3 linked regions of the Homo sapiens genome follow. The main gene of each other region encodes a partner of the protein of the gene in region 2 in a complex. Each region holds a gene or a part of one and is shown on either strand. Other genes may lie near its edges. The genes, in order: FGF23, FGFR3 and KL.

Region 1 (3,745 bases), on a different chromosome or scaffold from region 2:
ATTTTTAAATCTATGCTGAGATGTCTTTCAAGGATCCAGCTTGCCATAGAGTCTGATTCTCCTCCTGGATGTCTGTGTAATTGTCTAATACATCAGTCAACACCCAGTATGTGTACAGAATGGTAGTAGAGTTGATCTCCCTCTTCCTTCTCTACTTATTGAAGTCACTCACTCTTCAAGACCAGGCTCAGGCGTCACCATCTCTATGAAGACTTTCCTCATCTTTCCATTCAAAATCAGTTGTTCTTCCTTCTCAGCTCCTCAGGACAATGCCTTCACCTCTATTACAGCATGTATTCCATTTAACTTGCTTTAGCTGAGTTTACCTATCCAGTGCGTTCCTTAGAGTGAGCTGCTTAGGAGCAGAGGGTATAACTGTTTATGTTGAATCAATATAAGTGACGGATGGAATTTTCTTCTTGGCTCTTCTTGGGTTGGTTCTTTGTCATTTTCTCACTTGGTGGTGACCTCTCCAGGTGCAGCCCCTCATGGACTTTCAGTGTCCCCTCTCAAAAACTAGTCTCCGACAAGGGCCTGAAACCCATTCACACGACCTACCTCTTAAGTAATTGATAATGGCTTTAAATTACTGTTTTGTGGCAAAGGCACAATTAGATCATATACTGGTGTAACATGCGTGATAATTCAGCGAGATTTCTTCCCCACATGTTATTTAATTACCTGACATTTTCTGTTAAAAATCATTACTTTAGGTCTTTGGGGCTACTTCCAGTTGCCTATCACAGAATTTCTAGGTGCATCTCATCTGACCTCATAGCCTCCAGGGAGGCAGCTAGAATCCCATGCAGGGATTCTAATTCCTCTTCTGCAACTGTAGCTTGGAGAGGTTGTAAATGCCCAATGTTTGTGCCTAGCAAGTGATGGAGCCTTGTGGGGGTGATTTAAAGGCCAAAGCTCTTCTCCTATCCCATGCAGGCTCAATACAAGGACCTTTGAGGAAAATAAGCAGCAATAATTAGGTACTAGCTGAGTAGAAATCATGATAGGGACTGAAATTGGACTGACGCGGAACAGAGGGAATGAGGGTGGAGACAAGCCCCAGAAAGGTGAGAAAGGAAGAGGGCCAAAGAGAGAAGTTAATTTGTTTCAAAGTTTGGCTGAGGGGAACCTTGAGGAAAGCTTCCCAGAAAGTGGACTGGGGTATGACAGGCGCAAAGGATGCTTAAATTCCTCCACAGTGGTGTCTGCCTATGTGTCTCAAATGTATGGCTAGTTTTGTGGTAAACCTTTGGAGAAATATAAGGAACGTGTAAGAAATGGTTTCGACTGGGTGCGGTGGCTCATGCCTGTAATCCCAGCACTCTGGGAGGCTGAGGCGGGTGGATCATGAGGTCAGGAGATCAAGACCATCCTGGCTAACACGGTGAAACCTCTTCTCTACTAAAATACAAAAAAAATTAGCCAGGTGTGTTGGTGGGCACCTGTAGTCCCAGCTACTCGGGAGGCTGAGGCAGGAGAATGGCATGAACCTGGGAGGCGGAGCTAGCAGTAAGCCGAGATTGCACCACTGCACTCCAGCCTGGGCGACAGAGCGAGACTCCGTCTCAAAAAAAAAAAAAAAGAAATGGTTTCTGTTCTGGTGACTTTTCAGTCTAATTGGGAAAAAATTACATTTAGTAATGGTCTTTGAGCGGTTGCACTCTAAGCACTTTACATATTTTAAATTCTCAAAACAAATTTTATATTGTTAGTACTGATTATTATTATTATTAGTAGTAGTAGTAGCAGCAATATCCTAATTTAAGTGATAAGGAAACTAAGACAGGATTGAAACTCAGGTCAGAGACATCTTCCCACCACCCGGTAACAAGCCTCCAGCAGAAATCACTAAGAGTCTGAGAAGACAATATCAAATGCTAAAATACATGCTGCAGGCAGTGAGGACAAGGAGTCACAGCAGCACTAAGGGCTCGGGGAAGGGGCACTGAGCCAGGTGCCAAGAACCAGGGGACTTGGATTTTGGTCCCAATTGTGCCACTTGCTGACCTTGCACTAGCCTCAGTTTCCTCAGCTGTGAAATAGAACAATGGCTGTCCTGCCTACTTCATAGGGTGATGATCGAAGGGGATAATGGTGGTAAAAGTGACTCGAAAGTGTCGAGCAAACAGAGGACATCACGTGGCGTGTTCTGACCTGCTGTTTATGCCGGGCCCATGCCTTGACAGGTGTGCTGGCTTGATGCTTGGGGTCAGTGTGGGCAGTGTGTATGGCACACACGCTCCTGGTTTCCAGAGCCAGTCCCCCTAGAAAACATCCGGCGGTGGTTGAGGAACTGTGAGAAGCTGCTACGGAGGGCACACAGACTCTTCCATCAAACAGTGTGAGCCAATGTGAAAGTTTAGAAAATGTGAGAGAGTCAGAGTTTCTTTCCTTTGTGCTTTCAAAAGGCATCTTTTCGCAGTCTGCACAGATTCAAGGGAGAATTTTGCAGAAGGAAGGAACAAACCATGGACTGCCGGAGCAACCAGCCCCGCCTGTTGGAGCTGAGCAGGCTTAATGGACTTTGCCTTCAATGACGGAGGTGTCTCCGTGCGTGTGACCTTGGAACAGCTTGGGATTTGGGGTCAAGGTGTCCTCTAGGTCTTTTACTACCTGTCTGACCTTCAGCCAGTTATTTAAGTTCTTTAACTCTTGTTTTTTCACATATAAAATGAGGACAGCAGAAACATTTACCTCATTTGGTCATCTTGAAGACATAATGAGATAATGTTTTTATCCTTTAGAAAGCACTTCCTAAGTGCTAGTAATTTTTACTATTACCACTTTGCTTCAACCTCTGCTTATAGAAGTAGAAAATTATCTACTCCATTCTACTCTTGTGGCCAGTAAGTGATAAATAAGATGATAGCAGTGAAGTGCTTTGAGCACCTCAAAAGAAAAACGTATGAAAAAGGCTGAAGGAGCTCAGCGGTAATTCAGCTTCAATAAAGATAGTTCCTATGGGGAAGATGGAGGAAGTGAAAATAGCAGGATCTAGGAAATGATATTACCAGGGACAATAAGCATCTCTCTCTTGCTGTTTCCATATAATAAGGATAAAGGGGAGTCAGAGGATGGCCTTGTTCATGGAACGGGTGATAAGGACACCAGAGGGGTACCTGGCAGCAGCGCTTGTGAGTCCTAAGGGAGCTTGAAGAATCTGGTAGGCAGGAGATAACTTCATTTTGTCAAGTCCAGTGACCCAAAGATGGGTTGTGCACTCAACTCTTAAGAATTTCTTACAGCAAAGTAATAAGATAAACCAGAATTCAATAGAAATGGATAATTAGGAGGGGAAAAAATACCCCTCACATTTTAGGTTTCCATCAGTGTAAAAACATTGCTTAACAGTCACTGATGAGGTCATTACAAATCCTTCACCAGACATTTAATTAGTTGTGCTTCTTATCTACATGCATTAATCTTTCCTCTTTCTTTTGGGTAACGTTTTTTTTTTGAGACGGAGTCTCACTCTGTCACCCAGGCTGGAGCACAGTGGTGCGATCTCAGCTCACTGCAAGCTCCACCTCTGGGGTACAAGCGATTCTTCTGCCTCAGCCTCCCAAGTAGCTGTGACTACAGGCAGGCACCACACCCCACTAATTTTTGTATTTTTAGTAGAGACAGGGTTTCCCCATGTTGGCCAGACTGGTCTCGAACCCCTGACTTCAAGTGATCCTCCCACCTCGGCCTCCCAAAGTGCTGAGATTATACGCGTGAGCCACCGCATCTGGCCTCTTTTGGG
Region 2 (3,745 bases):
GCATTTCTGCCAAGGAGAGGATCCTGGTGAGGAAGAAAGCAGAAAGCTATGTGTTCACAGATGCACGGATGCTCCCCTCCCAGAGACCCGTGGCCGTGGGTGCAGAGGGAGTCAGTCCTTCTTGGAGGTACTGGGAAAGGAGCCTACAGCTCCACTGAGCCCTTCTGCCTACAGGAGGGGCCCCACTCAGCAGCTGTTCCCTGAGGGAGACCTGTCCACGCGTGAGCTCCTTCCCACAGTCCCATCCAGTCCCCCAGGGGAAGGGGCAAGACGGTCAGGTCAGGACCCACACGCATGCTGGTGCTTTCAGAACCTGATGACTTAGTTGGTTAAGAGAGCTCACACCTGCAATCCCAGCACTTTGGGAGGCTGAGGCAGGTGGATCAGTTGAGGTCAGGAGTTCAAGACCAGCCTGGCCAACATGGTGAAGCCCCGTCTCTACTAACAATACAAAAATTAGCCGAGTGTGGTGGTGCACACCTGTAATCCTAGCTACTTGGGAGGCTGAGACAGGAGAATCACTTCAATCAGGGAGGCAGAGATTGCTTGAGCTGAGACTGTGCCACTGCACTCCAGCCTGGGTGACAGAGCGAGACTCCCTCTCAAAAAAAAAAAAAAAAAAAAAAAAGAGCAGGGCCAATGTGCTGCTGTGCCTTGGGGAACGGTGTCCTGGGAGCGGACCTGGCTGGCAGTGACCTGGGGCTGTGCACTGGAGGGGGCTGGACAGTGCACTTGGAGGTGGGTGAGCCTGGGCCCCAAGACGGTCTGGGGACATGGGCTTGGCCAGAGCAGGAAATGAGGGTGGCCAAGGACAGGTGCTGAGCCACCGAGTCGGCACAGAGGGGTGGGCATGAGGGCTTCCTGGGAGCAGGGCCCTTCCAAGTCCCTGAGGTCAGCCCAGGGACACCCTGGCCTCTGGGAGATTCATGGTGGGGCTGTGCATGGGCTGGGTGGGGTCAGCAGGCAGCCAGTCACTGAGGGGCTTTCAGCGCCCATTTTCCTGATGAGCACCTCCAGTCCTGGAAGCCACAAGCCAGGCACGCAGCCCACCCGGCCGGCCCTCCCGGCCAGCTCACTGGCTCCCATGGGCCCCGGACCTCCTTGGGCTTTGCCTGAAGGTGGGAGCAGATGGCCTTTTCCTTGTGAGGGTGGACACAGAAGCCAACAGTCATGTGGGGTGAGGGGACCCAGGCACCTCCAGCGTCCCCCGCAGGGCAGCACCTTCCCCTCCTGGGAACCCACCCCTCTTCAGCTGGACTCTGAGCCCACCCCGTGGAGCCCAGAACCTCGGGCCAGCTCAGGCTCTGCCACCAGCTCTCTGTCATCCTCCCTCAGAGCCGGGCTGTGCTCCCCAAGCCAGGGGTATCCAGCCCCCGCTCTTCATCCTAGGCCGGGCAGGCAGCCAGCCCCAGGCCTGTGTCCTCCTTGGGGGGCGGGGGGTAGGGACCCCTCGCGCGGGGCTCTCAGGCGGCTTAGCTGCGTGCGGCCCCAGGTCAGTCAACGCAGCCTCTGCACCTCGCCGGTCAGGTACGCAGGCCGCGCCGGGCTGCCCCAGACCTGCGGCGCACACGGGAGGCTCAGCCTGGAATGCCGTCCTGCCCTCCTCCACCTGAGGAATTGCCGCTCACACCACAGGGTTCAGCTCCGCGGCATCTCGGCGAAGCCTCCTGACATCCCGACCCCCGCCGAGACCTCCCCTCTGAGCTCCTGAGCACAGCCCCAGGGGACCCGAGCTGCGCGCTATGCAAACACAGGCCTGCCCTCGCCCTCGGTGCGCCCCGTGCCCGCCGCCCCCTGGGCCGCCCCGCGGTGCGACTAGGGGCCTAGCCCGCCTGCCCCGGCTCCCACGCCCTCGAGACCGCCGGGCGCCCCCGCCCGGCCACGCCCCCTCGGATGCCCCGCTCCGCCCCGAGGGGGCGTGCCCTGCGCCCCCGCGAGCCGGGCGGGGACCGGGCGGGAGCGGGGCGGGGCCGGGGCGGGGCGCGGACCGTCCCCCACTGGCTGCGGCGCGCGGGGCAGCCCAGGCTCAGTGCGCGGTGGCGGCGGCGTCGCGGGCAGCTGGCGCCGCGCGGTCCTGCTCTGCCGGTCGCACGGACGCACCGGCGGGCCGCCGGCCGGAGGGACGGGGCGGGAGCTGGGCCCGCGGACAGCGAGCCGGAGCGGGAGCCGCGCGTAGCGAGCCGGGCTCCGGCGCTCGCCAGGTCCGTGCTTGGGGCCGGGCAGGCTCGCGGAGGGGTCCAACGGTGCTCGCGGAGGGGTCGGGGCGCGGCTGTCGCGGAACCACAGAGGTCCCTGCAGCGGGCCGGGCCGGGGCGCGGGCTTCCCGCTCCGGAAAGTTTGCCGCCGCCGCCGCCCTGGGAGGGCTTTGCAGCAGCCAGGGAGGGAAGGGGGAGGAGGGAGGGACCGCGGCGGGGAGGAGGCGGCCGGCGCCAGGCGGCCCGGGAGCCCTGGGCGGCGGCGGCGGCGGGCGGGGCGGCTGGGGGTCGGAGGGGTCGGGACGCAGGAGCCGGCCACCGCCGCTTTCGTCCCTGTCCGCCCCTCTAACGAGCTGCCTTCCTCCTCCTGTAGTCTCCCGAGCGGCGCCCGCCTCCCGCCGGTGCCCGCGCCGGGCCGTGGGGGGCAGCATGCCCGCGCGCGCTGCCTGAGGACGCCGCGGCCCCCGCCCCCGCCATGGGCGCCCCTGCCTGCGCCCTCGCGCTCTGCGTGGCCGTGGCCATCGTGGCCGGCGCCTCCTCGGAGTCCTTGGGGACGGAGCAGCGCGTCGTGGGGCGAGCGGCAGGTAAGAAGGGACCCACTAGGCACGGGAGAGGCCGGCCCGTGCGGGCAGAGGCGTTGGGGACGGGAACCGGCCCCGGGTCGGAGGGGCCGCCGGGTGTGAGTGACGCCCCGGGGTTAGAGCCCGGATTCCGCTGCCTCCTTGCCGGAGAGCGCGGCCAGAGCTAGCGCGGCGACTTGTGGTGCGCCCGGAGCCGCAGCTACCCTCCAAGTGCGAGGCCACCACGGGGAGCCAGGCTGGGGGTTGGCGTCCGCAGCCCCGATCCCCTGCGACTCCCTAGCCCTGGCCTGTCGGGAGGGCGCGGGGGGCCCCATTTCCACGATTCCCGCTGTTGTTATTCGGGTTCTGCGCAGACGGAAAGTTCCCATTGTTGGCGTCCCCCTCCCCCGGGCCCCAGTTTGTGGCCAGCTTCGGCCAAGGCGAGAGACCGGACTTCTAAGGGTGGGTGTGCGCGTCAGCGAAGCCCGGCCCCTGCCCGCCCGAAGAGGCAGCAGCCTCCAGCGTCCCCGCTGCCGACCCTGCCCCTGCCTGGGGGCCGAGGGCGCTTCCCCGTGGGTGCGCGCCGAGCTCCAGGCAAGCGAGGGGCGCGTGTCCCAGCGTCGCGGGCCCTAGACTGGGCTGGCGGTCCAGGTCCCGCGGGACGTCGAGGGTCTGAAGGGAGGTCCCAAGGGGCGAGGGGAGGGGAAGGGGCGCCCGGCCGGACCTGCACACGCGCCGCGGTTCCTCGTGGGCCGGGCCGAGAGCTCCGGTGCCGCCGCCGCGTACACCCGCAGCCGGCTCCGGACGGGCGAGGGGGGCGCGCACAGCTCAGCCCGGCGGCCGCGCGGAGGGAGGCCTTGGCCCGGTGAGCTCGCGCCCCACCCGGGCCGAGGCCCGAACAGCCGCTTCTTTGTACCTCGACGCGGCCACAGACCGCGCATTGATGGCGGCTCGGCGGCTCGCGGGGAGGTGTGAGCGACCGCGGGCGCG
Region 3 (3,745 bases), on a different chromosome or scaffold from region 2:
TCATGTAAAACTCCTAATGCAGAGTTTGCAACAGTAGGATCTCCATGAATGCGTATCCCTTCTCTCTCTAGAGGATGAACAAACCAAAAGGAAGAATATTGCAGGTGGAGGAAACAACCCCTGCTAAGGAATTCAGCCCACAGTAGCGATGTGACATACTGATAAAACTTGGGGTTTGGAGTAGAAGAGACTTAGGTTTAGATTCCCTACTCCTCTAACTATGACCGGTGTGAGCCTCACTTACTGCTCTGTACAAGTGGGAATGACATCTATTGTCCCGTAGGGACACTGTGAGGATTAAATGACATAATGCAAGTGAGAGTGTCTTTTAAGTAGTTGATTATTTTACAGAGGAATACACTTGCAGCATTAGAAAGCATTTCAGATATCATTTGGATTAACTGCTCACCTCATGCCAAAACCCTGTTGAAACTTATTTGATTACTCTTTACAGCATCCTAACTTGGTGGTCATCCCAGGCATGGCACCGTCTCTAAGAAATCGCTGCAACCCCATGGACCCCCATACTGTGCTGCATGCCCCTCCTCTGGACACCAAGAGTCTCACACATACTTCTCTAATATCATTTACTGCAGATAATGAGGGGCATCCCTCCCCAGAATGAGCTCCCTGTGGAGTTCCCTCACTCCCTCCCTGGCACACGGAGGCCCTCATTGTCTGTTAAACTGAGTTGAACCAGCTTCACCACCTCTTCACGAGCCAGTTCACTCCCTTTGCGGATGGTACATTTGACAGATTAAATATTATGAGGCAGAGTGTGGGAAGGTCGCTATTTAGGATGTTGCAACAAATAAGGATGATTAACAGGGAGATGGTTACATATAGTCTTGCAATGCTTTCTAATTATTCCTGGTATGTTAATCTTATAGGCTTGTTGTCTTAAGATTGGGATTTAATAAAGTTATTGACAAGGACTCAGTGAAGTTATTAACTGTATGGCCAAGAACATTCATCTAAATACTATTTTTAATAGCCAAACATTGAAAACAATTGAAATGTCTAATATTCAAATATGTTTACCATGTATGAATGTTTTAATACATGATAGTATAACTAAAGAAATACCATTATTCAGGATAATGCAAAAGAATATCAATTAACATGTAAAAACGTTTCTAAAATACTCTGAACAGAAAAAGGTTATAAAATAGCAAGTAGAGTTTAGTAGCACTTTGATCTGGAGGGATTTATAACTTGTTAAAACCTGTTTTACAGCAGGATTGTGGGTGGTATAATTCACTTCATTTTACCCATCTATATATTTTTTTCATTTCCTACCATAAACATGTATTGCTCTAGAGATTAAAAAAATAAAATTCAAAAAGGGAAAATGGCTGATAGCAGTTGGATGGCAGGCCTGTTTGATGGTTATTAAAAGTCTCTGCTTCATCTCACCCTGCCCACCTGTTCTCCAACTTGCCCTATGGTCTCTGCCTGAAATCCAAGTCCCAGGCACATTGAACCCCACTTGAAGTTCTAAGATTATCTAGCCTTCCATGCTTTGGAGGTGCAGCTCTCTAAGGTATGTTTTGCCTATTCCCAGTTCCTTCACTCTTACACCCACTTTAAAACTCAGCTTAGATGTCGCCACCTCCAGGAAGCATTCCTTGACATCTTCCCTCTCCCTAGCATGGACTAAATGTCTGTTCTATGTGTTTCTATGATGGTCCTCTATCCAAGACCTTAACCATATATTATTGCATTTATTTAAGTGTCTGGATTGTAGGTGTTTTGAAGGCATTGAGTCTTTTATCTCTCAGATTCTAGCAAAGTCTCTGCAACAGAGCCAGTATTCAATAAACAGATCTAGAGGAATGAAGGCTGGCACTAAGAACCAGATCAAAGGGTCTAGGACAGAAGCAACATTTTTCTGGGCTGAAGCAGGAAAACTCTCTCATAAGCTACTCTGGTTCTTATTTTGCTTTCAAGATCATGAAAGACAGAAAACTTTCAGGCACATACCATTAAAAAATAAATTAGAAGGAATTTTATATGGCAGGCCTCTGAGAATAATACCATATTATCTCATAATGTGCTAATGATCCACTTTGGGGTATAAGTCTCTCTCGTATGTGATGCCCTCCTTGCTTCCTTCTTACCTTCCATCTAGATTTTGAAACATGGAGTCTGAAAAAAATCTAGAAGAAAAATGGATCTGGAATTCCTTCCTACCAACTAGCTAGTAGCCCCAAATTTTGGAAGTCGAGGAAAATAATTTTGGAAGTCGAGGAAAATACTCTGAATTCCACAGAACATATAGACATTTTCTCTTTGGCTAAATTATAAGCTCCCTGTCATTTGCCTATACGTATCCCCCACAGAACCCAACAAAAAGTTTCACACAAATAAGCTGCTTTTAAATGGTGGGTGGAAGGAAACAGGTGATGAGCCTCAGGTCCACTCCAGCTTTCTGCCTTGGGTTGTGTTCTAGGTATGGCTGAGGCAAATGAAGCCCACACAATACACAGCAGTATTGCTGAGCTGAAAAGGAAGAAAGCAATGATGAGGACTCTGAAGCAGGTCAACGTACTGGAGAGAAGAAATCTACACAAAGGAAGGACCTAGAAGTCTGCATGAGATTTCCCAAGGATCCTTGGCTGTCCATGCACAGGACAAGATTTTGTGAGGCTCAGCAAAGAGAAGCAGCCACAGGTCTGGGAGATGAATACCAAAGGTTGGGTAGGTCTGGAAAATATTGCATTTCAGAATAGCCAGAGTAGAAAAATGCAGCTGAGCACTTCAGGCATCCAGCTGAAACTCAGGAAGGTCATTACCTGAGAAGTAAGAACAAAGCAGGAATAGACCAGCTCTAACAAAGACTAAAGCCACATCAAGTAAATCTGGTAATTTAACTTCTTGGCAGAACTAAATACAACACCCTTTAAAAAGAGACAATATTGACCAGGCTTCCTATAATATCTCATTCATAGCACACAGAGCATAATAAAAATCTACTAGATATGTGAAAAAGCAGGAAAATGAAACCCTTAATTAAGGGGAAAAAAAGAAGTATTCAATATCAACAGAAGCCAAGATGTCCCAGACATTGGGATTAGCAGAGGACTTTAAAATAGCTATTATAAATATTTTTAAGGATTTCAAAGAAAAGATAGATATAATGAACAAATGGAGAATAACAACAGAGAAACAACAACTGAAGAAAACATGAAAATTCTAGAACTGAAAAGCGAAATAAACAAATTTTTGAATGGGATTAACAATATTAATTCTAAATGGAATAATAATAAGAATAAATAATGTAATCCCTAAAACTCACAAAGATATTAAAAGGTTTCTCTAAAAAGCCAATAAAATAAGAAAAATGAATTACCAAAAAATCTGATTTTTCCAAAAGATGCAGAAATAAAAAACAAAAAACACATGGAACAAAAAGAAAACAAATAGCAGGATTGTAAACATAAACCCAAACATATCAATAAATATTCAAATACACATGGACTAAATGTTCCAAGTACAAGACAGATGCTATGAAAGCAGATTTTAGGGGCTGGGTGCAGTGGCTCACGCCTGTAATCCCAGCACTTTGGGAGGCCAAGGCAGGTGGATCACGAGGTCAGGAGTTCAAGACCAGCCTGACCAACATGGTGAAACCCCGTCTCTACTAAAAATACAGGTGCCTGTAATCCCAGCTACTCGGGAGGCTGAGACAGGAGAATTGCTTGAACCCGGGAAGCAGAGATTGCAGTGAGCCAAGATTGTGCCA

The links.
Region 1: the proteins of FGFR3 (region 2) and FGF23 are in contact, whole or in part, in a cryo-EM structure (PDB 7YSU), measured with the Homo sapiens proteins. Residues at the interface, in NP_000133.1 of Homo sapiens: Glu157, Arg158, Asp160, Lys161, Leu163, Leu164, Ala165, Val166, Pro167, Arg223, Asp244, Leu246, Glu247, Arg248, Ser249, Pro250, Val277, Tyr278, Ser279, Asp280, Ala281, Gln282, Pro283, His284, Ala312, Gly313, Ala314, Thr316, Thr317, Asp318; in NP_065689.1 of Homo sapiens: Ser29, Leu32, Gly33, Ser34, Trp36, Tyr43, Ala45, Ala47, Arg48, Asn49, Ser50, His52, Ile75, Arg76, Ser77, Glu78, Asp79, Ala80, Gly81, Val83, Val84, His117, Gln118, Thr119, Asn122, Gly123, Tyr124, Asp125, Leu158, Ser159.
Region 3: the proteins of FGFR3 (region 2) and KL are in contact, whole or in part, in a cryo-EM structure (PDB 7YSU), measured with the Homo sapiens proteins. Residues at the interface, in NP_000133.1 of Homo sapiens: Gln286, Leu288, His290, Val291, Val293, Gly299, Thr303, Pro304, Tyr305, Val306, Thr307, Val308, Leu309, Lys310, Glu320, Leu324, Ser325, Leu326, His327, Asn328, Val329, Glu332, Asp333, Thr338, Leu340, Phe347, His349; in NP_004786.2 of Homo sapiens: Ser539, Gln540, Phe541, Thr542, Asp543, Asn545, Val546, Tyr547, Leu548, Trp549, Asp550, Val551, Ser554, Lys555, Arg556, Leu557, Val563, Lys566, Arg568, Tyr571, Val573, Ala576, Pro580.

Annotation. Positions count from the first base shown.
Region 1 is NC_000012.12:4,373,083-4,376,827, forward strand, and holds part of FGF23 (fibroblast growth factor 23 precursor), read right to left. Parts: intron 1-3,745. UniProt on the Homo sapiens protein: Regulator of phosphate homeostasis. Inhibits renal tubular phosphate transport by reducing SLC34A1 levels. Up-regulates EGR1 expression in the presence of KL. Acts directly on the parathyroid to decrease PTH secretion. Regulator of vitamin-D metabolism.
Region 2 is NC_000004.12:1,791,265-1,795,009, forward strand, and holds the start of FGFR3 (fibroblast growth factor receptor 3 isoform 1 precursor), read left to right. Parts: upstream 1-2,028; 5' UTR 2,029-2,201; intron 2,202-2,518; exon of another isoform or gene 2,519-2,568; 5' UTR 2,569-2,670; coding exon 2,671-2,779; intron 2,780-3,745.
Region 3 is NC_000013.11:33,047,410-33,051,154, reverse strand, and holds part of KL (klotho precursor), read right to left. Parts: intron 1-3,745. UniProt on the Homo sapiens protein: May have weak glycosidase activity towards glucuronylated steroids. However, it lacks essential active site Glu residues at positions 239 and 872, suggesting it may be inactive as a glycosidase in vivo.